Linked DNA regions of Homo sapiens. The protein of the gene in region 1 interacts with the protein of each later gene in a pairwise test. Each region holds a gene or a part of one and is shown in the gene's direction. Other genes may lie near its edges. The genes, in order: BEND7, NUTF2, BANF2 and ZCCHC10.

Region 1 (7,033 bases):
GTGATTACCTGTGAATAATCGTGTTCCACGTAGTGGATCCTTCCCTCCTAGCCAAGTTAAGGGCAACCTTGTGTGTTGACTTCTGTGTTGCCCTCACATGTATCAGATCCTGCAAGACTATGTGTCATAAATTCTTTGCGTAAAGGAACGTGATCTAGTAGAGTCTTGAAATTTAGTGAGGGGGAGAATCCAGCATACAATCTTTTTAGATCTTGTCCAAGGAGTATAGTTACTAAACTCCAAAGGATTTCAGGCTGCCAATAAGGTAGTCACGTGGCATGGATCCATTTTAGTAAGATTCCTTTGTGTTTGTTTTTCTGAAAAGGATTCAGCGTCTTGGAAAGAGATCAGGAAAAATGCACAGGTTTCCTTATAGCATCCTGTCTCGCTAGAGAGCTCGTTGCTCCAAAGAGCTTCCTTTTCCTGGTATCTATACCTGGAGAAGTCATTGACTAATGATAACTGGAAATACCAGTAGAAGTCAGTGAATGCTTCCAATCTCAATCTCCTGTATACTTTTCACCAATTTTTTTTTTTATCAAAGAACTTGGATTCCACTATGATAGAAGAAGCCTGTCTTCCGAAAAGGACTTCTAGAGCCACAAAGTGCTTGGTTAACACCTTGGTGATGGTGAAAATCCTGTGCCCCTCCTGGACTACCATGTGCCCCTCCCCGGGTTAGGGTTCAGACTCTTGCTTTAGGATTTAGGAAACCAGAGAATATTCAGTGGCTTGGCTAGTATCCAGTAGCAGGTGGGCGTAGTTAGGAGGCGAGACCAGGTGTGGGTGTAATAGCCCAGCCTGTCCTGTCCCACACTAACACTGCACCACACTCAACGAGCTTCTACGGCTCGGCCTGCTCATCTGCTCCCAGCACCCACTGTCCCCAGATTATTTAGGTTGACTCAGCTTCTTTGTCATTGTCACTTGGAGTCTTCAGGCCTCGTTTCTGATCCTCTGCCCCACCTGCCCCAAATGTGCAAGGAAACCTCTTTCTTCCTGTCTGCCAAAGCCTGTCACTCATCATTCCCTGCTGTGGAGTAGAGCCCCAGGACTCCCTCCTCCTAGGCAGCAGCTGCAGGGGTGACCTGCTCAGCTGCTTCTGCTGCTTTGGGTGAAGAGAGTGTGACTCAGTAAACCCCAGAGACCATTCCTGAACGTCCCGTCATCTCCCCTAAGAAACTTTCCACACTCTGCCCTTCTTCAACCTTCCCTGCCGACTCTCAGCTCACCTCTCAGCTCTCCTCTCAGCACAGACTTCTGCAGTTACTGCAGTTTTCTGTGTTCCATCCTTTTAGTTGTTGTTTGTTTGTTTGTTTGTTTGTTTTGAGATGGAGTCTCACCCTGTTGCCCAGGCTGGAGTGCAGTGGCACAACCTTGGCTCACTGCAACCTCCGCCTCCCAGGTTCAAGTGATTCTCCTGCCTCAGCCTCCGAGTAGCTGGAACTACAGGCGCGCGCTGCCACGCCCAGCTAACTTTTGTGTTTTTAGTAGAGACAGGCTTTCACCATGTTGGCCAGGCTGGTCTCAAATTCCAGATCTCGGGTGATCCACCCACGTCAGCCTCCCAAAGTGCTGGGATTACAGGTGTGAGCCACTGTGCCATCCTTTAAAGGATGTGTTCCATCCTTTAAAACATGCCACAGTGAGCTAGGCCGTGAGCTTACTTCCTCTGAGGAGGGACCTGCTTCTGGCCTTCTGCCCTCTTCCTTTCAGCACTGTTTCTTCCTCCTCAGTCCCCCGACGTCCTGATTTTTTGTGTATTTGTTTCGTTTTGTTTTGCCTTTGGGAGACATGTTTCTGCACACGGCAGGCGCAGCCCACCGCCAGAACCCCTCACACCTGCCACCTTCCTCCCTCATTGCCACCTGCAGCTTAGGATGCTGGTTGTCAAAATGAAAATACAAAGTTATGCAAAACTCAGGTTGTATTTTCAGCCATGTACTTTTCATAGGCATAAGTTCTGGAACTCTGAAACTGAGGTCATGACAAAGCAGATTTGCCCTCAGAAGGTTCCAGAATCCTTGTGACGCCTTCCTGTTGCTAATGGTAGCACTGTATCTATCCTAGCATTATATCTACAGAGCAGAGGCAGGACCTTTGGCAGGAGACACATCCCTTCTCCTGTGATGTGTCAGTTAGTGTAGAGAAGCAAGCTGGCATGGACTTGAGAGCCGGGGTGGGTATCTGCCCCATGTGGCCTGGCTATGGCTGCTCTGTTCAGGGAGCCTGGGGTCAGGGGTGGCGGCCACCAACCTGTGCCAGAGAAGGCTAGTCTCTGCATGGACTTCAGTGCAGGCATACCCGGCCTGATGGGGAGGGCTGTGGGTGGAAACCACACAGAAAAGATGCCTCCTCTTGCTTGAATTGTGGTGTTAACTAGCCGGGAACGTATGTGTCTGGTTGCTGAAATTAATACCGCATTTGCCTGTGGGCTTATCTTTCAGGATTCCTTTGGGACCTCTTCCAGACACACCCTGTTCCGTAGCCTCTCGAGAAAGTAGTAAATTTTGCTGACTCTGCGTTATTGAAATCTCGCTTGGTCGTTCATTCTCATAAAATCTGGAATATGATTTATTGTTTATATATTGTAATTTTCACAGGGGTTTGAAGTAGAAATAGTTTTATCTCAAATTAGAATATTTCTCCTCTCAAGCATATGCCAACAACACATAGCAATATTGTAAATTTGGAAATCTGTGTTATTTCCGTGTTCACTCATGTTCAATTAGACAGAATTAATATATTCTGTAATGTTTTTAGTATCATTTTTAAAAACTAAAGATATTTACTTCAAAATAGTGAACAGTAAATTCAAAATAAACTTCCTTATTTAGTAACATAACACATATATTAATAAGCTAAATATCTAACTGGAAAGCACAAAACGGCTAGGTTATTGTGCAGTTACCAGTTCTACAGAGAAACCTGGCTTATCCTAAGTGCAATCATTATGTTGATCCATATATATATATACATATCCTTATATATACATATATTGATCATTATAATTGATCCTAAGTGCAATCATTATATTGAATGTGCTGTGTGTATTTGTAGGAGCTGTATTTTTCTTAACAGATGCTGTCTGTTAGCCTTTTCTTTATCTTACAGTTTAAATTTCAAGCATTTATTAGAGTAACTGCATGAATGTTTACACACACATACCCTGGCCTAAGATTTTTTTTTTTTTTGAGACAGGGTCTGCCACTATCACCCAGGCTGAAGTGCAGTGGCACAATCTCGGCTCGCTGCAACCTCTGCCTCCGGGGCTCAAGCAGTCCTTCCACCTCAGCCTCCAAGTAGCTGGGACCACAGGCACACACCACCATGCTGGGCTAACTTTTGTACTTTTTGTAGAGACGGGGTTTCTCCATATTGCCCAGGCTGGTCGCAAACTCCTGAGCTCAAATGACCCTCCCATCTCAGCCTCCCGAAGGGCTGGGATTACACGTGTGAGCCACCATGCCCAACAGTGGCCTAAGATTTTATCTTTTGGGTTTGAGAAAAAAAAATTCATTTCTCTTCATCTTTATGAAGATACTGGCTGATGCACAGTTTAAGAAGATAGTGTGTTTGAAATAGCTCCTAACAGATATCAGCATCCTCTGATATTATTATTGATAGAAAATATTTTCTTTTTCTTTTTTTTTTTTTTTTTTTTTGAGATGGAGTTTCACTCTTGTTGCCTAGGCTGGAATGCAATGGTGCCATCTTGGCTCACCACAACTTCTACCTCCTGGGTGAGCCGGGTTCTCCTGGCTCAGCCTTGTGAGTAGCTGGGATTACAGGCATGTGCCACCACGCCTGGCTAATTTTGTATTTTCAGTAGAGACAGGGTTTCTCCATGTTGGTCAGGCTGGTCTCGAACTCCCGACCTCAGGTGATCTACCCGCCTCGGCCTCCCAAAGTGCTGGGATTACAGGCGTGAGCCACTGTGCCCGGCCAAAAAGATTTTCTATCTGTGCAATATTACAGACATCTTTAATATTTATTAAGTACTCCCAGTGCAGTATAGAAGTTCTTTCATTTTAAAAAAATGTCCTGAGACGGGAGAAAAATCTTAAAAAAAGAAGTCAGTGTAGGTGAAGTGGGATTTCAAAGTGGCCTGTGACCTTTCGCACACAGTTACGCTGCAGGGGAGGTGGCAGTGCGTTTGGCATGGGAGGAGGGCACGGTGGGGAGGTTGCACTTCCGCCCTTCCAGTGCTGGTACCGCCAGTGACCTCGAGTGGCAGGGACCCCTCGGTCATCACCAGGCTGATGTGATGGGAGTCAGAGTGCCAGAAAGACAAAACCCCCTCGCTTGCCATGCTGCCACACTCGGCGCCTCTCTGTCTCCTCGGCCGTCCTCTCTGAAGGTGATGTCTCCAGCGGCAGCGTGTCATCCTGGAGGACATTGTGTCAGCAGTGAAGCCCTGCATCCCTGCCAGTCATCCTGAAGGACATTGTGTCAGTAGTGAAGCCCTGCGTCCCTGCCAGTCCAGGCTTTCTTCCTTGTCCTTGCCCCGCCTGGTGAAGCTGACAGACAGTGAGCAGAGCGCTTTAGTGACCTGCCCATTCCTCACGGGTGGCTGTGGCCCATCAGAGCAGAGGGGTTCCGCGGTCCAGTTCTATCCTTGACCTTCTGTCTCAGCCTGTTTCCTCATCACCTACTCATTCAGAAAATGCTTCCAAAGAGGGAATGTCATGTTTGTTCCTGATGACACACTCTCAAGAAACCTCTTTCATCATAAGCGACTTGCAGAAAGAGATTAAAATGAGAGGCACCAGGAATAGGATGGGTTTTTTCAGACCGTAGTCAGTTTTCCTGCCTTTGCGTTTTACAGATTAAGTTCATAGAGTCAGTCATCTTTCCCATTTCCAAAGAAGGGTTGTTTTTCTTTCTCTTCTTTTTGGTTAGTGAACTGTTTTCTCTTTCACTAATTTAGAGTGCTAACTTTGGCCCTGTTTCCATTAGGAGATGAAAGCATGGAAATAAAAAAGCAAATTACAGGGATGAGAAGATTGCTGAACGACAGCACTGGGCGGATCTATCAGCGAGTTGGCAAAGAAGGAGAGAAACTAAAAGAAGAGCCCCAGGACCTGGATTTAGTCTGGCCTCCACGTTTGAACTCCTCTGCTGAGGCCCCGCAAAGCCTCCACCCGTCTTCACGTGGTGTGTGGAATGAGCTACCGCCCCAGAGTGGACAGTTCTCAGGGCAGTATGGCACCCGTTCTAGAACCTTCCAAAGCCAGCCCCACCCTACCACGAGCTCCAATGGTATGGTTGTCAACAAACATTCAGAAGGCTCTCATGGGGGTTTGTACTGTTCTATTTCTAAATATTCAGTGTGTTGAGTTCAATTTATTAAACCCTCCCATAATTACCTGCCTTTGCTGAGTTACTTTAAAAGACAGGGAGACACAAAGGAAAGAGTTGAAGACTATTAAAAAACAGAATTGAGAATTAGGAAAGACAGGGGGTTCTATGTTATAAGTGAAGATTTCCTGGTAGAGATTTTAGCCCTTTAAGAGGTTAAAGCGATCATTTTGTGCCCATGTATGGATATTATTGTCACAAAAAAAACCTGAACATTAGGGCAGAAAGAGCTCCCCACTGTCTTTAAAAGAAGCTTCCTGGTCCTATGGTGTGTTACTAACATATCCTCTTGGTTACTCCTTCACCTTACTCATTATCAGAAGAGTCCCAGATAAAGGCGGGGGCGGACAGGGGTGGGGGGCCGATAACCCAGCATCCCACGTCAGTACTGAACCCAGTGATCCATATTTTGTAACATGCTTCATTAGCAATGGAAAGTATTCCTTTAAAGTAAAATTTTCTTAATTTAAGTTTCCTAATTGTTAAGAAAAGAATCAAATGACAATTTTTTTTCAAAGCTTAAGGAGAAAAACCTGATGCTTTTTGTGGTCATATTAGTTTTCTATCCGGCCACACTGGATGCTATAATATTTGTTCTATAAACTCTGTAGAGATGTGCAGATCTATAGTTTTCACAAAGAGAACAAGAAAAAGGTAAGAAAGCATTTTCAGTTTCCTTAAGAAGTTAAGGATTTTTTTCCATTCATTTTCATTTCACAATATCCTTCAAGAAAAAGAGAACTGTTTTGACTTTTTTTAAAAACACAATTTGTGGTTCAGAGGCATGAAAAGCCATCCTGAGACATTGATGAGACAGCGAAGGACCCCAGAAATGTATGGGTGTCTTCTCTGCCTCTCAGTAGTACATAAGCCAGTATCAAAGTTCCAATGCTGGCATGCCTCCAGGTTAGAGGGACACAGCTCTTTAAAGACTCCTCCATAAAAATAAAAAGTCAGTTCTCTTTAAAATTAGAAAATGATTTATAACAAGCTGAAAAGGGTTGGTTTTGTCTTCTAAAAATGATAAAAGATGGTACTTAGAATAGTGACTAGAAATATTCTTTAAGACCTTTCTAACTCTACTACCATGGAAGAGACAATAAGAGAAATAAAATACCCTTAGGTATGTATGAAGTTAATAAACCCCACATCAGTAAGTTTTGGGTGAACAGTGTTCTGTTTCCCAGTATACAGTAGGGACAGTGGATTTACTTTGAAAAGTATGAAGTTAGTAAAAGTTACAAACATAAATTCCCCCATATCAGTTTGAAAATAGATATTTTATGTTTTCAATAGAAATATGGCTAGGCGTGGTGGCTCGTGCCTGTAGTCCTAACGCTTTGGGAGGCCGAGATGAGTGGATTGCTTGAGGCCAGGAGTTCGAGACCAGCCTGGCCAACATGGCGAAACCCCATCACTACTAAAAAATACAAAAATTAGCCGGGCGTGGTAGCGCATGCATGTAGTCCCAGCTACTTGGGGGGCTGAGGCATGAGAAGCGCTTGAGCCTGGGAGGCAGGGGTTGCAGTGAACCAAGATCATACCAGTGCACTCCAGCCTGTGCAGCAGAGCGAGACCCTGTCTCAAAAAAAAAAAAAAAAAAAAAAGAAAAAGAAATATATTACATATAACTGTGACTACTTTGGTATTTCATTGGGATTATTTATAATTT
Region 2 (7,084 bases), on another chromosome or scaffold:
GCAGGCAGCAGCAGCAACAGCAGCAGCAGCAGCAACAGCAGCAACAGCAGCAGCAGCAGCAACAGCAGCAGCAGCAGCAGCAGCAGCAGCAGTCCTCACCCTCTGCCTCCACTGCCCAGACTGCCCAGCTGCAGCCGAACCTGGTATCTGCTTCCGCGGCCGTGCTTCTCACCCTTCAGGCCACTGTAGACAGCAGTCAGGCTCCGGGATCCGTACAGCCGGCGCCCATCACTCCCACTGGAGAAGACGTGAAGCCCATCGATCTCACAGTGCAAGTGGAGTTTGCAGCCGCAGAGGGCGCAGCCGCTGCGGCCGCCGCGTCGGAGTTACAGGCTGCTACCGCAGGGCTGGAGGCTGCCGAGTGCCCTATGGGCCCCCAGTTGGTGGTGGTAGGGGAAGAGGGCTTCCCTGATACTGGCTCCGACCATTCGTACTCCTTGTCGTCAGGCACCACGGAGGAGGAGCTCCTGCGCAAGCTGAATGAGCAGCGGGACATCCTGGCTCTGATGGAAGTGAAGATGAAAGAGATGAAAGGCAGCATTCGCCACCTGCGTCTCACTGAGGCCAAGCTGCGCGAAGAACTGCGTGAGAAGGATCGGCTGCTTGCCATGGCTGTCATCCGCAAGAAGCACGGAATGTGAACTGGTGCCCCGGCAGCCTGCTGGACTCCCAGACCCCATCCAGCCAGGGGACCGCAGGCCATTGTTGAACTCCTCTATACTCCTGGGCACTGGTTGACAGTACTGAGGCTTAAGGCAGCTGGACTCTCTTGCTGGTGACCTGGCATCCTCAATTGTTTCCTCCTGAAGTGGAAGCTGGGGCCTTAGACTCTGCCCTGGTGACACCAGCAATTATGACTTTGTCTACCCTTCCTCCCCAGTTATTGTTGCAGATTCTGGTTAAGCAGAGGCTTCAGAACCACTGAACTTGAAACTTACCCTCTAGGGATGCAGGTGGGATGTCCAGGGACTATAGGTTTGGGAAAACCATACCTTAAGGTTGGTCAGCAGTCAGACAACTCTAATGTGTGTAGTGATAAGAGATTCAAGTAACATCAGTTCTCCTCCTTTTCATGCTTTTCCTTCCCAGGTGCAGCCTGTGATTCTGATGGGGACTGGTAAATCTGTGCCTCTGCCTCCTAGGACTTATTTTCCCAGGAGGCCATTTACAAGGGGATCTGGATGACCTGCTGATGGAGATCCAGCTTGCCAGGGACTTAGGTTTATCCTGTTTTGTTTGCTACTGGTTACAAATTCTATTTTCTGTACAATTAGTCAGACTAAAGTTTTCACTGTGTTTGTTTGGCAAAACAAATTAAACAAAAAGTAAGGTTTTTATTTGGGTCTCGCCATTTTATTTTTACAAAAACATAGTTAAATGTCCTTGAAACATGGGGAAATAGGCCTCAGCCTTTCTGAAAGACCAGGCTGACCCTGAAAGTAGAGATGCTTCAATGACCAGTTTTTCCAAAAATGGGCCCTAAGCACATGGATCCTGGCCTTATAAGGTCCTCACAGAGTTCCTGGCCCAGCTCACCCTAAAGAGTTTGGAAACTGCACCAAATGGGCCCAGTTTGTCCATGGATTATCTCCCTGTATCCTTTCAACAAGAAGGACCAACTGGTAACTAAGCTATATTGTGATAGTTCGCCTCTGAGGGTTTCAATTCTCAGCTGGGATTGAATTTTGCTCACCATGACATCCCTTAGGCTTAGCACAGCCTCTGGTATGCATGTGCATGCAGTTACTCTGTGAACCGGTAAGAGCGCAGCTGGAGCTAGCCAGGGCTGCTTCAGGCACAAGGACTGTTGTATAGATACCTTGGCCTTGGTACACCTTCGGTGTGACAGAGCTGTATCCACAGAGAGCATTAAGAAGTTGGGAGGTGTGATTCCTTGACTCATTTTCTTGGCTGCCTGCCTCTATTTTTTTTTTTTTATTTTTTTTTAAGATGGAGCTTTGCTCTTGTCACCCAGGCTGGAGTGCAATGGTGTGATCTCAGCTCACTGCAACCTCTGCCTCCCAGGTTCAAGCAATTCTTCTGCCTCACCCTCCTGAGTAGCTGGGATTATAGGCACCCGCCACCACGTCGGGCTGATTTTTGTATTTTCAGTAGAGACAGGATTTCACCATGTTGGCCAGGCTGGTCTCGAGCTCCTGATCTCAGGTGATCCGCCTGCTCTGCCTCCCAAAGTACTGAGATTACAGGTGTGAGCTACCCCGCCCAGCCTCTATTTTTTCTTAGATTGAATATTGAAGGGGCAAGGATTACATTGCTTTTGTCTATAGCTCCAAGTAATTTAGCTCAAAGCCAATGTCTAAAAGTAAATGCCTTTAAAGCTCTGGGTTTACTGTGGGTGGTGGGGCACAAACGGAGACTTTCAGACCCCATAAAATATGACTCCCTTCTCTTTCTTACTTATGGACAAAGCCATCTGCCTGGGGACTTGTCTGTGGCAACATGCTGGGATGGTCCTAAAACTCAAGTCTCTGTTTCCCTTCTAGTCCCTTAGCACTGAGTTGGGAAAGTGGTGGGGAAGGAGTGAGACATAGGTTGTGTAGGTGGCTGGTTGGGGGATGGACTGGACCTCTGTCTTCCTAGGGTTAGATCTGGCTGGTAATCAGGTGGTGGAAGCACTGCAGTGCCCTTTGTTGCTCCTATTGGGCCAGTCTCACATCTTCCCGGTCGGAGCAAGGCCTTTTCCAGGATCCAGCCATGCTCTTCAGTGTATCCTTGAGCTCCTATTTATTGAAGGGACTTCTGCTGTTTCTGCATTGGCTCCCTTGAGGCTCTCAGCAGTACTCCCTGGACCCTCCCTGGTGTCTGGAGGTTATGGGCAGTGTTTTGGCTTCTTAGGGAGAAGAAGACAGTTCACAGAGCAAGGGAGATCCCAGATGCAGATGTATAAGCGGGGCAATGCAGAGTTCTCACTAGCTGAGTAATAAGCATCTAGTCAGGCAAAGTGTAGTGTTGACAGACCTGAGATTTAAAAAACAGAAGTGTGGTCCGGTCTTACCAGCCATCTCTTGGAGGGGTAGCCTGTGGGTGGGGGAAGGTGCAAAACTCTTGTGGAAGAACAGGAGTACTGAGAGACCTCCGGCCAGGAAGGAAGGCTAGGAGTTGCCTGGAGAGGCCTTGTAGCCATTTCCCTTACCTGTGGTACCCCAAGTTGGCTGCAGATCTCTTTGCCAAGCACAGGTCTGACCTAGAGACTGGCCTTACCACAAATGTTTGTGTTACCAAGAAAACAAATGGGCGTTGAAAGGAAAGGGCAATGGGTAGGAAGAGAACTATTTACAATCTGGTCACTTAAATCACAGCGAAATTTTGGGTAAGTCAGTCATTTCTCTTTCCTCATTAATAAAAATGAAACACTTAGCTGCTCTATCTGCTGCAAAAAAACCTTACAGAATGTTTTGGGGGGACCCCTGACTGTAGAAGTTTGAGGGTAACCTCTCCAACCAAGCCCCACCTGAGGGACATTTGAGTCTCCGGCCCAAGAATAGCCTAGCCTGCTCGAAACCAGCTTTGGGCCCGACTCGCCGAGGTGCAGGCGCACGAATGTTGGGATTGCAGGAGCTGTGCGTTCCGCCCGGGCTGGTTAAGGCCACACAGCTCGGAAGAGTAACAGCGGCAGCCATAGCCCCAAGGGGAGGGGGTTTCGTGAGCGGAAACGGCCCAGGGGCCCAGGGAGGGGCAGCTGGGCCAGCTTGGGGCCGGGCTGGGCTCCCACGGAGGCGGGGCCAACCCCCACCCCAGTGCACAGACTGGGCGGGGCCGAGCCAGCTGAGACCAGGAGACAACTGAGCCCTGACCCTAGCCTGGCGCCAACCTCTAGTGTTCCAGAGGCTTCCGCTAGACCACAATTCTCAGGGGCTTGCCCCGGCAGCCTCCCTCCCTGGCTTAGCCTCACCTCCCGCGCTGCGGGCCGTGTCTGGGCCTCCGCGCATAGCACGCCGGGAATTGTAGTTTTCTCTCGGCGCGCTCATGCCGGAAAGGGGGGGCGGTGGGACTGCGTCTCCCAGAGTGCAGCGGGGCGGGCGAAGGAAGGCAGGGGGGAAGGGACAGTCGGCCGCAGACCGCGCTGGGTTGCCGCTGCCGCTGCCGCCATCGTGCCAGCCCCTCGGGTGAGTGTCGGGGCCAGCACGCCGGGGCGGGGGCTGGGCCGCAGGAGCCGCTCTCTGGGCTGCCGGGAGGCTCCGCTGAGAGTCCCCGGGCGGCCCCTCCCCTCCCCCCCCCCCGGCGGCCCGAAGCCGCGCGGGGCCCGGGCCATGTGTCGCGCGCGGCTCCGCCTCCCGCCGGTCCTGTGAGGCGGCGGCCGGGGGTAACGCACAGAGAGCCAGCCGGGCGCCTATCTGGGCCGTACCGTGCTGGTGGCTGGTGCACCGGCCTGCGCCATGGCCAGGCCTTTTTCTCTAGTCAGGACCGTCCGGATGGGGCCTTAGGGCCCCGCCCCGTCTAGCCTGGCCCGGCCTGCGCGAGCCCCGCAAGCTCTGCAGGCTGGCTAGCGGGCAGACCCCAGCCCCACGTCCTGCTACCCACCTACGAAGGATCCGGGGATGGGCAGCGCCACCCGGCCCGCTCCAGAGTCAGCATGGGTAAGGGCGCCCGCCTGCCGCAGCCGGGGCTTGGGCCCCTCACCCTGTTCCCGACCATAGCCCGGCCGGGGTGTAGGTGAACGCCCCCTCCTTGTCTGCCCCTCGGAAGTGTACGTTTCTTACCGCGCCCTTTGTGGAGCCCGGACTGGAGTTCTCGCAGGGAGGGCAGGGTCAGGGAATATGAGGCGGGAGGGGATTCCACGGGAGACTTTATCCCTGTCTTGTCTTAGAGGATCTGGGCCTGATGGGGTGAGGCGGCTCCTGCCGGGTAGGCCCAGCCCACGCCCTTCTCTATCAGTGACCAGGCCCCAGCAGCAACACAGAATTGCCCCGCAGGACAGGATGACTTCATAAGAATGGGATGTTAAGGTGGGACTTAATGCACGGGAAGTAGAATTCAGGCCTGAGGTTCTTGAGCCTAGTGCTAAACCAGAACCTGGGCTGGAAGGGGCTTTGGGGGGTGGGGCACGTAGATTTCAGACTTTGTGGGGCCCTCCCGAAGCCTGGGTGGCAGAACTAGGGCTGGAAGCTCCAGAAAGTCTGGCTTCCCCTCACTTGCTTGCTCACTTCCCAACAACTGGAGCTGCCTGTAAACAGGCAGGAACCTGGTTGCTTTATGAAATTGCCCTTACTGATGCCATCAGAGACCCTACTGAGTTCTGGGGGAAGAGTTATCTTTGACCAAAAAATACTATCCTGATATCCTTTGTAAAGGCGCTTCTGATTGAGAGATGGTAAATTAAGGAACCAGTCCAGAGAAGACCTTGGGACTAGGGGAGAGATGGCATGTAAAGCGTTGATTTCTCTGAGCCGCAGTCTTTCCAGAGACTAAAGAAGTAGCTCAGGCCTGGCGCGGTGGCTCACGCCTGCAATCCCAGCACTTTGGGAGGCCAAGGCCAGCGGATCACCTGAGGTCCGGGGTTCCAGACTAGCATGGCCAACATGGCAAAAGCGCATCTCTACTAAAAATACAAAAATTAGCTGAACGTGGAGGTGCACTTCTGTAATCCTAGCTACTCAGGAGACTGAGGCAGGAGAATTGCTTGAACCCGGGAGGTGGAGGTCGCAGTGAACTGAGATCATGCCACTGTACTCCAGCCTGGGTGACAGGGCAAGACTCTGTCTCCAAAATAAAAAAAGCTGGGTGTGGTGGCGTGCACCTGTAATCCCAGCTACTTGGGAGGCTGAGGCAGGAGAATCGCTTGAATCCGGGAGGCAGAGGTTGCAGTGGGCAGAGATCATGCCACTGCACTCCAGCCTGGGCGACAGAGCAAGACTCTGTCTCAAAAAAAAAGAAAAAGAAAAAAAAAAAAAGCAGCAGCAGCTCAATCTCTGCAGCTCTGGCCTCAGGAGCAAGCAGAATATCAGGTCTCTTAGAAGGGCTGATTGAGACCCAAGGTGAAGAAAGCCACTGACCCTGCATATTTTTTTCTTCCTCCTTGAATATTTTCCCAGGTAATGTTTTTCTGTTCATTTCTGGTCACTTCTTCCAAGTACTCTTGACCTAGAAGTTTTCTTGCATATGAATTGCTCTGCCTAGTTATTCTCCCTGGTCAGGAAGAATAGGCAAGAATGCTGCTCAGATTTTACCAAGCCCTGCCTTCTCTCTGGATGTAACTTTCCTAGTCCATATCCTGGCCCATGAGGACATGGAAATCAGGTTCATCCAAGAGGCTCAGGAGAGGCCAACTTTGCCAGTGGAGCTGGGCAATAAGGAGGGACTACCCACAGGACAATGAGGTGAAATCTAGAACTAGAAGCAGTTATTTCAAGACCCTGTAGATTGTCTGCGTGGGTACTTTCTAGGACACAGATTTCAGGTGAGCTGGCTTACGGCTATGGCGTAGTTTGCGTATTTCATGGCCCTGGGTGACTTGACCAGGAGAGTTTTTGTTTTTCTCTCGAGACGGAGTCTCTCTCTGTCACCCAGGCTGGAGTGCTGTGGTGCGATGTCGGCTCACTGCAACCTCCGCCTCCTGGGTTCAAACGATTCTCCTGCCTCAGCCTCCCTGGTAGCTGGGACTACAGGCGCACGCCACCATGCCTGGCTAATTTCTGTATTTTTAGTAGAGAAGGGGTTTCACCATATTTGTCAGGCTGGTCAAACTCCTGACCTCAGGTGGTCTACCTGCCTTGGCCTCCCCAAAGTGCTGGGATTACAGGCATGAGCCACTGATCCCGGCCTAATTTTATTTTTATTTTTATCTATTTATTTATTTTGAGACGGAGTCTCACTCTGTCACCCAGGCTGGAGTGCAGTGGTGCGATCTCTGCTCATTGCAAGCTCCGCCTCCCGGGTTCACAGCATTCTCCTGCCTCAGCCTCCCGAGTAGCTGGGACTACAGGCGCCCACCACCACGCCCAGCTAACTTTTTGTATTTTTAGTAGAGACGGGGTTTCACCGTGTTAGCCAGGATGGTCTCGATCTCCTGACCTCGTGATCCGCCCGTCTCGGCCTCCCAAAGTGCCGGGATTCCAGGCGTGAG
Region 3 (5,439 bases), on another chromosome or scaffold:
CCTGAAGTGAGGATTCACACCAAAGACACAGAGTTTAAGCCGGGCGTGGTAGCTCCTGCCTGTAATCCCAGAACTTTGGGAAGATCACTTGAGGTCAGGAGTTCAAGACCAGCCTGGCCAACATGGTGAAATCCCGTCTGTATAGAAAATACAAAATTAGCCACGCATGGTGGTGCATGCCTGTAATCCCAGCTACTTGGGAGGCTGAGGCAGGAGAATCACTTGAACCTGGAAGGTGGAGGTTGCAGTGAGCCGCTATCGTGCCACTGCACTCCAACCTGGGCTATAGAGTGAGACTCTGTCTCAAAATAAAAGAAGAAGAAAAAAAAACACACAAGAGTTTAAACCTGAAATGACATGAAGACTTAGGCGACTGGCGAGAGAGAATCAAAGAAAGTTGTGTCACTGCACCATGGAGTCTGGTGGTGATTGAAGTCCGTTCAGCACAGGTGCTCAGGACCTGCGGACTTGGGCAGAGGGCATTGTAAGCAGCTAGAGAACAAGAGAGGGCAGAGACAGCTTATCTCTGCTTGACAAGGCCCAGCATTATGGTGAGTACTGAGCATTTTAATAAGTGTGGATCTCAGCCAGCTATTTAATTTTTAGGGCCCACTGTAAAATGAAAATGCAAGACCTCTAGTTCAAATTTATTAGGGGGTGTAGTGGCACGTGCTTGTAGTTCCAGCTACTCGGGAGGCTGAGGTGGGAGGATCATTTGAGCCCAGGAATTTATGGTTGCCAAGAGCTACTGCATGCTACTGAACTCTAGCCTGTGTGACGGAATGAGATCCCGTCTCTTAGGAAAAAAAAAAAAAAAAAAAAAAGTAGGCCAGGCGTGATGGCTCACTCCTGTAATCCCAGCACTTTGGGAGGCCGAGGCGGGCAGATCACGAGGTCAGGGGATCGAGACCATCCTGGCTAACTTGGTGAAACCCTGTCTCTACTGAAAATACAAAAAATTATCCAAGCGTGGTGGCACGCACCCGTAGTCCCACCTACTCGGGAGGCTGAGGCAGGAGAATCGCTTGAACCTGGGATGCAGAGGTTGCAGTGAGCCAAGACCGTGCCACTGCACTCCATCCTGGGCAACAGAGGGAGACGTCGTCAAAAAAAAAAAAGAAAAAAAGGAAAACTAATAAAAAAATAAAAGAAATTTAGTAAGAATTTCCAGATGACAAGAGCCAAGTGTTAAACCAGCTCAGGGTGCTCTTAGCACCAGGCGCTGTGTGAAAACATGGCTCAGATGCAAGGGAACCCAACCCTGGCATAGGCTCAAACTGCTGCTGTTTAGCAAGAAGTGGGCACCGCAAACTGGAGGGTGATTCCTCCCCTGCTTGGGGGCCGGCCCCTGGAGGAACCTCACTGTTTGCACTTGGAGTTTAGGGGCATTCTGCCCTTGAGCCCCCATCCTTTTGTTTGTTTGTTTCGAGACAGAGTCTCACTCTGTTGCCCAGGCTGGAGTGCAGTGGCATAATCTCAGCTCATGCAATCTCCACCTCCTGGGTTCTCCTGCCTCAGCCTCCCAAGTAGCTGGGATTACACGCGGCTGCCACCATACCAGGCTAATTTTTGTATTTTTAGTAGAGATGGGGTTTCACTATGTTGGCCAGGCTGGTCTCGAACTCCTGACCTCAGATGATCTGCCCGCTCAGCCTCCCAAAGTGCTGGGATTACAGGAGTGAGCCACCACACCTGGCCGAGCCCCCCCTCTTACAGCTGCAGGACGGAATGTAATTCCCTGGCTTGGCCATGGCCACGGCCACTGTCCAGAGTGGTAGGAGGACAGGGACAGCTGCTCAGGGTTTCTGTGTTTCTGTGTCACCCCTCCCACCCCAGTAGCTGAATTCTGGGGAGCTCTGGCCCAAGGAGGGAAAGGGGCAGCATCTTTTCTCCTTGATTAGGGGGCTTTCTGGAGCCGGGGGAGAAACCAAGCGGGCATCTGGCAGGGCCATGATGGGAGCCCACGACTCCAGCTTCCCTGGGGAGCAGGGTGAAGTGCTCAGGGAAGAAGGGAGAAGGGAAGCCAACTTTCCCTCCTGGAAGATGCCACAGGGAGACAGGAGGGAAAACTGAGGAGGGAGTGTCAGGTTGCCACTTGGCTCCAGAGGCTGCAAGACGGGGCTTCCTGTAGCATTCCTGGAAAGTTTGCCCAGGGTCCACATGTTCCCAGGCATCCTGGCTGCTGAGCCTGTGGGTATGTGGAGGCTCTCACTAACAGGCCAGCTGATGCTGGCAGTGCCACTTCTAAAACGGGCAGGGGATGCATTAGCCTCCAGGCCAGACTGTGGACAGTTGGGAAGTGCAGGAATAGTGCAGAGGAAAACAGGAGACTTAGTACCTCCACCTGGGGAATGGGAGGGGTGAGTACATGTGAGGATCAGGTGGATTAAAACGTGTCAGGTGTCTAGCAGCACGTGGCCGACAGAAGTGCTAAAAAGTGCTACTTAGCATTAACTACTATTATTAAGTATTATCATGAACATTTCTCTTTATGGAGAAAGCTTTGTGTAAGCCACTTACTATTAATTATTGTTAATTATTATTAATATTCTCTCTCCTTGGACACAGCTCTATGTCTCTCGTTTCTGTTACCTTCACCTTGGCACCTCCCACACCTACGTCTACTGGCTCAATTAACACTTAATAAATGTTATTTTTCAAAAACATTAATTTAAATACATCTCAGTAAAATCCATTCAAAATGGGAGGATACTGATAAAGTAAAATGAGATCACGCCAAGTAACTATATTGCTTTTTTTAAAAAAGATTAAAGTAGCAGTTCAGAATCACCACAAAATCCTGGCTTTTTTCTCTTATCAACAACTGGACCATGACTAAAAATAAAGCCCCCAAAATTCAATGCTTGGGTATATTTTATGACTGGGATTCAGCTTTTATTTGATTTCTCTTCTTAAAAAGTATGCTCTCTTTGGTTAAGATGAAGTTTGCTTTATTTTACATAACTAAAAGTAAACAGACACCATCAGGTTTTCCTGGAAAGGGCCCAGAACTCGAGGCATGGGTGGATGCTGGTTCTTGTTGGTTCCAGGCTGGAGAGCCCCCAAAACCAGCCCTGAGAGATGGGCGTTTAATGTGACCTGAGCTCTCCAGCCTCCACCATTTAGTGGCTTGGCTAGTTTCTGGCTACGTGGCCTTGGGAATTCCCTTCCTCCATGTGGTCCTTGTGCCTTGTCAATAATGGTGTAATAAAACTATAAAAGATGAATTAAAAGCCTCGAGGCAAGTATTAATAGCTAGAAAGCTTGAGAATGCCATAAAAATAGAAATCACAGTGCACTGAGTGCTTATCTTCCATGTATTTTTTATCCACAGAGACTGAGGAAGGGGAACGTGGACAAGGTTTAGCATGTTTTAAACCTTCTATGCTCCTCCTACAGAACTACAGCTCCCAGTATGAGAGAGGAATTTACATTTTTTGAATGCCTTCCCATTTAATTCACTTAATTTAATTTGCAGAGCACACCGTGTGCATTAGGAAGGTGCAGAAACTGAGATCCAGGTTCTGTGGGTTCTTACTTCAGGTTACATGAGTTGCCTGAGATCACACAGGTGGTTTGCAAAAACAAATCAATGCTAAGATGCCATTCATCTGTCAGCCCCATGTGCAGTGGTTCTCAGCCCAAGGAGATTTTGCCCCCAAGGGACATTTGGCAATGTTTGGGGATGGTTATGATTGTCGCTACTTGGGTCGGGGAGGGAGGGTGCCACCGGCATGCGTAGAGATCAGGGGTGCTGCTGAACATCCTGCAATGCACAGGACAGCCCCCCATAACATTTCAAGCATTGTCCAAAATATCAATAGTGCCGAGGTTTAGAAACCCCGTGCTATGGGCACAGTGGCTTACCCCTGTAATCCCAGCACTTTGGGAGGCCAAGGCAGGTGGATCACCCGAGATCAGGAGTTCGAGACCAGCCTGGACAACATGGCAAAACCCCGTCTCTACTAAAAATATGAAAATTAGCCAGGCATGGTGGCAGGCACCTGTAATCCCAGCTACTTGGAAAGCTGAGGCAGGAGAATCGCTTGAGGCGGAGGTTGCAGTGAGCCGAGATCACGCCATTGCACTCCGGCCTGGGCGACAGAGCAAGATTCTGTCTCCAAAAAAATAAAATAAATAAACAAATAAAAGAAAGAAAAGAAAAGAGAAGAAAAGAAAAGAAATCCCATGCTACAACAATTGCAGAAGTAGTGGGGCGGGAATGTCTCTTACTCTGTCTGGGTTATGTGTGTGTTTCCAAGAGAAATGCTTCACTGGAGGTCTGAAGGGAGCTTCAGGAGTGTGCTAGGCCCCGGCTACTCAAACTGTTGTCCCTGGACCAGCAGCAGCTGGGAGCATGTTAGAAATGCAGGCCTCTCCCTGGACTTAGACTTTCAGAACCCGCATTTTAACAAGCTCCCACATGATTCATGTGCTTGTCAAAGTTTGAAGGGGGCAGGGTCTGACTCATTCCAGGGTGGACGGCCCGCAAACCAGCCCTGAGAGATGGGCATTTAACTTGGCCTTAGCTCTCACCAGGGCTAAGACCCATGTCAGGGCTTCAAGGACTGACAGGCTCCCTTGAATCGGCCCTGCTCCCCCTCCTTTGATTGTCACGTGAGCCCTGGTTGCTGGGAAGGAAGAGCGCGTCTGAGCTGGCTTATGATAACCTTTCCTGCTTTCCTCCCTGTCTCATCCCCTCCCCAGGCCTACATCCTGCTGGGACAATTCCTTCTGATGCACAAGAATGAAGCCGAGTTTCAGAGGTGGCTCATTTGCTGTTTTGGTGCCACTGAGTGTGAGGCCCAGCAGACTTCTCACTGCCTCAAGGAGTGGTGTGCCTGCTTCCTGTAGACACAAACCTCATTGCTGCCCCCCACCACCCTCTGGGGAAAATGACGCCTTCTCCACCTATGCCCAGGCTCCGAGTCCTCATTTGTGTTTTTAATTTTAATGATACACTCCCATTATAAGCAGTAGTTCAAGAACATAAAACAGGACAAATGCAAGAGAAATGACTCCCAAACCCACCACCCAGAAACCATAGTCAATCCTCTTAGATGAATATCATGTCAAATATCTTTCAGCAAAAAATTTATATGAAAGAATGGATAATTTTATTTAAAAATAGGAATTGAATTTTAAGTCAGTGTATTGGTCATCTATTGCTGCATAACAAATAGTCCCAACATGTAGCAGCTTCTCAAAACAAACAATGATGCTACCTCACAGGGTTTCTGAGGGTCAGGAACCTGAGGGTTGTTTAGCCAGCTGGTTCTGTCTCAGGGTCTCTCATGAGATTACTCACTGTTGGCCCAGCAGCAGTCATCTGAAGGCTGGACCAGGGCTGGAGGACCCACCTCCAAGATGGCTGCCTCACATGGCTGCTGGCAAGACATCTTGGTTCCTCACCACATGGGCCTTCCCATCGGGCTGCTC
Region 4 (6,098 bases), on another chromosome or scaffold:
GTAAGCAAAAAAATGTTTGAAGACCCCTGTCCTAAAGAATGAAATACGGGTTATGAAAATTTTCATTCTAGTTTAGGCGCACACCTATAATCCTAGCACTTTGGGAAGCTAAGGTGGGAGGATCACTTGAGGACAGGAGTTTGAGACCAGCCTGGGCAACATAGCAAGTCTCACCTCTACAAAAAATAAATACATAAATAAAATTTTATTTTGACATTTACTTTTGTTTTTCTAATTGTATCTCACAAGTATTTTGGTCTAAAAATATATATAATTACATGAATCTGGCTCTGTTAAAAAAGATTGCTGGCCAGGAACCTTGGCTCACACCTGCAATCCCAGCATTTTGGGAGGCTGAGGCGGGTGGATCACAAGATCAGGAGATCGAGACCATCCTGGCTAACATGGTGAAACCCTGTCTCTACTAAAAATACAAAAAAATTAGCCAGACATAGTGGCGGGCACCTGTAGTCCCAGCTACTCGGGAGGCTGAGGCAGGAAATGGCATGAACCCGGGAGGTGGAGCTTGCAGTGAGCCGAGATCCAGCACTGCACTCCTGCCTGGGCGACAGAGGGAGACTCCATCTCAAAAAAAAAAAAAAAAAAAAAAAAAAAGATTGCTGAATTTTGATTCAGTTATAATTTAATAAGTATACTTCACCCTCTTATTTTATGCCCAAAATGACAATTCAGTAAGTAATTCCATTGTGTAAAAAACTTTACATAAATACATGTTTATGTTTGGAGACTCAGGAAACAATGATGGAAGCATTATCTAGGAAATATAGAGAAGGCCAGGATATAAAAACATTGGCCATGTGTGGTGGCTCACACTTGTAATCCCAACACTTTGGGAAGCTGAGGTGAGCAGATTGCTTGAGCTTAGGAGTTCAGGACCAGGCTGGGCAACATGGTCAAACCCCGTCTCTACAAAAAATACAAAAGTTAGGCATGGTGGTGCGTGTTGTAGTCCCAGCTACTCCAGAGGTTGAGGTGGGAGGATTGCTTGAGGCTGGGAGGCAGAGGTTGCGGTAAGCCAAGATCATGCCACTGCACTCCAGCCTGGGTAACAGTGAGACCCTATCTCAAAAAGAAAAAAAAAAGTTAAATTTACAGGACAGTGGTGATAGAATTAATTGTTTTTTTCTTGTTGTTGTTGTTGTTGTTGTTTTTATTTTGAGACAGAGTCTTGCTCTGTCGCCCAAACTGGAGTGCAATGGTGCGATCTCAGCTCACTGCAACCTCTGCCTCCCAGGTTCAAGAGATTCTCCTGCCTCAGTCTCCTGGGTAGCTGGGAGTACAGGCATGCACCACCAAGCCTGGCTAATTTTTGTGTTTTTTTTAGTAGAGACAGGGTTTCACCATGTTGGCCAGGCTGGTCTCGAACTCCTGACCTCAAATGATCTGCCTGCCTCGGCCTCCCAAACTGCTGGGATTACAGGTGTGAGCCACCGCACCTGGCCTAATTGTGTAATTTAAAAACCTGATTTAGTATGCATGTTGTTTGACAGAATAATAGCAGCAAGCTATTTGTCCCTTTCATTCAAATTTACCAGACTTTATAACTAATGTGAGTGAGCATAGTTTTGAAGTATTACATTTCTGGTCTTTAAAGAGTAAATAACTCGGCCAGGCAGGGTGGCTCACACCTGTAATCCCCAGGACTTTGGGAGGCCAAGGTGGGCGGATCATGAGGTCAGGAGTTTGAGACCAGCCTGGCCAGTATGATAAAACCCTGTCTCTACTAAAAATGTAAAAATTAGCCGGGCTTGGTGACACACACCTGTAGTCCCAGCTACTCAGGAGGCTGAGGCAGAAGAATTCCTTGAACCCAGGAGGCGGAGGTTGCAGTGAGCCAAGATCGCGCCACTGCACCAGCCTGGACAGCAGAACAAGACTTTGTCTCAAAAAAAAAAAAAAAAAAGTAAATAACGGGACATGCAGAAAAAGAAATAGTTATTTTAAATTAAAGGGCTGCTTTTGAAAAATTATGAAATGGCTATTTGTATGATTCTGAGAACTCAAACTACAAATTAGGGCTATTGTGCTATTAGCTTTGTTCTGTTGTTCAGGAGGTAGTGATACAGCTATATCAGCCTAAGTTCCAGACTAAAAAAATTTAATCATCTTAACTACTAACCTACCTGACTTTTATACACGTGCTAAGATGCATTGTCTTGCTTAAATGCTGGTTAAGTTGACTGCATGTACCGTATACAGCCTACAATGGCAGACTTTCCACTTGCTTATAATAAGAAATACTGTACTCTGTATGTGATAAAAACACAGAATCTTTCTCCAGAGTAAAATGATTTGGGGGATAGTAGAAGGGCTTGTCTGAGCTGTGTATAATCACTCTATTAACAGGAGCTTTTTTCCCCCTCGTGTTTATCAGCATTGGAGAAACCAATGTAGAAAGAAAGGCCAAGAAAAAAAGGTATGTGTGGTTTTAGCAGTGTTTTATAGATAACATGTAATACTAATTGGCGGGATGGGAAAGGTGATTTTAAAACAATAGCTATGCCAGATGCAGTGGCTCATGCCTATAATCCCAGCACTTTGGGAGGCCAAGGTGGGTGGATCACCTGAGGTCAGGAGTTGGAGACCAGCCTGTCCAACATGGTGAAACCGTGTCTCTACTAAAAATAGAAAAATTAGCTGGGTGTGGTGGCACATGCCTGTAATCCCAGCTACTTGAGAGGCTGAGGCAGGAGAATTGCTTGAACCTGGGAGGCAGAGGTTGCCATGAGCCAAGATCATGCCATTACACTCCAGCCTGGGCAACAGAGCGAAACTCTGTCTCAAAAAAAAATAGCTATAAGATTTGGATCTGAAGCCTCTTACTGCAATTTATAATTAAATAATCATCCTATTTTCTGATAAGTTCCTTTTTTTAACCTGTCTGGAAATGCATTGCTTCCATTTCTCCTTTTACTCCAACTTTCTAGAGTCCTTGTACGTGGAAACAATAAATAATTGTCTTCTCTTGGCTTAGAATAGGAAGTGTTAATAGACTGGTAAGAAATTGTTGGCCAGCCATATCTGGTCTGAAGTAGTTAAAATAAAGATGATGAAACAGTCACCAGCTAAGCTACGTGAGGTTTAAATAGACCCAATTGTTATACTGCAGCTTTATTCTGACATTATTCCCTCTGAAATGTAATATAGTAGATATGCTTATCTTGAATTCCATCCAAGAGAATTAAGTTGCTGAAGTAACAATGCCTTGTAAAGAGAGGGACTGTGGTTTACAACAGGCAATCTCCAAAATATCAAACCTAAGGATAACATGCTAGCAAAGCTTCAATATATAAGCATATATATGGAATCATATGAAATCGCTTTTGGCTGGGCGCGGTGGCTCACGCCTGTAATCCTAGCACTTTGGGAGGCTGAGGCGGGCAGATCATGAGGTCAGGAGTTCGAGACCAGCCTGGCCAACATGGTGAACATGATGAAACCCCGTCTCTACTAAAAATACAAAAATCATCTGGGCGTCGGTGTGCGCACCTGTAATCCTGGCTACTTGGAAGGCTGAGGCAAGAGAATTTCTTGAACCTGGGAGGCAGAGGTTGCAGTGAGCTGAGATTGTGCCACTGCACTCCACACTGGGCAACAGAGCAAGACTCTGTCTCGAAAAGAAAAAAAAAATGAAATTGCTTTTAACATTCTATTACATGTCACCTTCCCATGTATATAACTCTGTATTGTCTAATAGGTCTAAGAGTGTAACCAGTTCCAGTAGCAGTAGCAGTGACAGTTCTGCCAGTGATTCTTCATCAGAGAGTGAAGAAACATCTACCTCTTCCTCCTCAGAGGACAGTGACACTGATGAAAGCTCCTCTAGTTCCTCATCCTCAGCCTCCTCCACAACCTCTTCCTCCTCCTCTGATTCAGACTCAGATTCCAGCTCTTCCAGTAGCAGTAGCACCAGCACAGATAGCAGCTCTGACGATGAACCACCAAAGAAGAAGAAAAAGAAATAGAGTTGCTCCATTCATATTGGACTGATGGACTGAAAACATTGATGTGATTCTTGAAAGGGAATTTAGAATATGTTAAGGCCAAGTAGGTTAACTGGTGAACATTTCTAGAATTCAAAAGTTTCTAAATGTTTTACATTGTAAGAGCATAGAGAATATTAATAATGGCTTATAGAGAGAGACTTTTATTTGAAGGGTGAATCTTGTTTTTTTTATCTTTAAAATATATCTCTAGAACTTAAAGCTGAAATCTGCAAATCTGTTTGTGTGATGAAACTATCTTTTCTCTCTGTGAAATAAATGCCATACTTTGTTATATATGTTAGTGGTATGTATCAGACATATTTTCAGGATGGTGCGTCAGGATATCTGGCAGTGGATTTCTAATGCTTTTGGCTGTATGTTATGTAAGATTTAATATGTTGTTACTGTAAGCTTAGGAGTTTTCCTACTATTAATAAATGTGCTCTATTTTTACATTTATGTTCAGAAAGTTATCTGACTTTTTGTCCTAAGTGGTATGTTCAAGGAGCCTATTAATATATTTATAGTTTTTGAATGCTGTAAGTTTCAAATTGCTGTGTTACGTCATTCATTTTCTTCTGGTTCCTTAAGTTTTTCAAGTTATCCTTTTCTGAGGAAAATTATTCTAGAGGAACCTAAAAAGGGACAAAAAAATTGAAACTTCTTAGGAGTCTAATCTTGGTGCCTTCTGTTAAAAGTCAGTGTATCAGAAAAGAAAGCAGCCATGTAAGAGGCTAACTTAAATAGAAGTGCTAGAAATATCTTTGTGTATTAACATGCAATAAAAGGTACCATTCAAAGCAGGGGGAAAGGTAGGAAGAAGAGGTAATTTTTACTGAAAATTAGGGCAATGTTGGTCGCCTTTTATTAAAAGCTTTTTTTAAGCTTTCATAAAGATTGCTTTTTGCTATTTTTGAAAATATGGTATTATAGTTTGTATGGTAACTGGTCATATATGACAGTCTACTGCATATATATGAATGACTAGGATTAATCTGGTGTGTTTACATAGGATATACATAGTTGAAATCTAGCATGAAAGGTTAAAAAGGAGATACTGCACAATATTTCTTAAAAGTAAAATGCTGTTATTGTGATGAGTCTTTGGTTTAACATCACAGTATTCTGTGATGTCTTTTTAACTTTTTGGAAAGAGGTATCATTTGTAGAAAAAATTTGATTTGGGTTAAATATAGGTTTTTAAAACTATAAATGTTGTCTTTTTTATATTTTTATGAAAAAGCAGTAGAAAATTACTTTTGAAGAAAACAGGCTATTTAAATATTGAAATATATGTATGTTGTGAGTTTAAGGAGCCTGTAATTGTCAGTTTTACAAAACCATCTGTGTTCAATGGTTGTAAATAAATTCTCAAAACATCATTTCAAAGGCTGCCTACAGAATATTATCACTTGACAGATAGAGTTAATAAATTACCAATCAGGCACATTTTATAATGTTTGTCTCTGTAAAGGTAATATTAGCAGTTAAAGAACACGGATGAGAAAAGAATGTGTTACATAGGTTGCATCACTTGCAGTTAAATAAAACTCACAATTTGTGCTCACAAGCTTAAACTTCTGTTATCTCTTTAGTGTTTTATTTAATGTCAGTTATTCCATTTGAGGTGTAAAGACATTTGAACAAATTCCAATTTTAAAGTTTTACTATTATGGCTGTTAAAAGTATGACTGCAGAGGTACAGAGAGCAGGAACTCAGTTCTTCTAGTCACACATTTCATTCAAAATGACAGAATCAGGCTGGTCACAGTGGCTCATGCCTGTAATCCCAACATTTTGGGAAGCCAAGACGGGAGAATCACTTGAGTCCAGGAATATGAGACCAGCCTAGACAACATAGTAAGACTCTGTCTCTACAAAAAATTAAAAAATTAGCTGGGCATGGTGATGTGCCCCTATAGTCCCAGCTACTCAGGAGGCTGTGGCAAGAGAATAGATTGAGCCCAGGAGGTTGAGGCTGCACTGAGCCATGAGTGTGCCACTGCACTACAGCCTGGGTGACAGAGTGAGAAAAAACAAAAAACAGAATCAATGGCAAAGTGGAGACTAACTTCTAGAGAGTTTTATTTT

The links.
Region 2: the proteins of BEND7 (region 1) and NUTF2 interact in binary tests that used the Homo sapiens proteins (3 or more experiments, as listed by UniProt).
Region 3: the proteins of BEND7 (region 1) and BANF2 interact in binary tests that used the Homo sapiens proteins (3 or more experiments, as listed by UniProt).
Region 4: the proteins of BEND7 (region 1) and ZCCHC10 interact in binary tests that used the Homo sapiens proteins (3 or more experiments, as listed by UniProt).

What each region holds. Positions count from the first base shown.
Region 1 is NC_000010.11:13,498,007-13,505,039, reverse strand, and holds part of BEND7 (BEN domain-containing protein 7), read left to right. Parts: intron 1-1,446; exon of another isoform or gene 1,447-2,179; intron 2,180-4,360; exon of another isoform or gene 4,361-4,530; intron 4,531-4,959; coding exon 4,960-5,262; coding exon of another isoform or gene 5,263-5,301; intron 5,302-7,033.
Region 2 is NC_000016.10:67,842,859-67,849,942, forward strand, and holds the start of NUTF2 (nuclear transport factor 2), read left to right. Parts: upstream 1-4,074; 5' UTR 4,075-4,127; intron 4,128-4,333; exon of another isoform or gene 4,334-4,835; intron 4,836-7,084. Other genes in the region: THAP11 (THAP domain-containing protein 11), read left to right, coding at 1-641. UniProt on the Homo sapiens protein: Mediates the import of GDP-bound RAN from the cytoplasm into the nucleus which is essential for the function of RAN in cargo receptor-mediated nucleocytoplasmic transport.
Region 3 is NC_000020.11:17,730,958-17,736,396, forward strand, and holds the end of BANF2 (barrier-to-autointegration factor-like protein), read left to right. Parts: intron 1-4,707; coding exon 4,708-4,854; 3' UTR 4,855-4,914; downstream 4,915-5,439. UniProt on the Homo sapiens protein: May play a role in BANF1 regulation and influence tissue-specific roles of BANF1.
Region 4 is NC_000005.10:132,996,471-133,002,568, reverse strand, and holds the end of ZCCHC10 (zinc finger CCHC domain-containing protein 10), read left to right. Parts: intron 1-2,149; exon of another isoform or gene 2,150-2,173; intron 2,174-2,367; coding exon of another isoform or gene 2,368-2,395; coding exon 2,396-2,437; intron 2,438-3,718; coding exon 3,719-3,986; 3' UTR 3,987-5,584; downstream 5,585-6,098.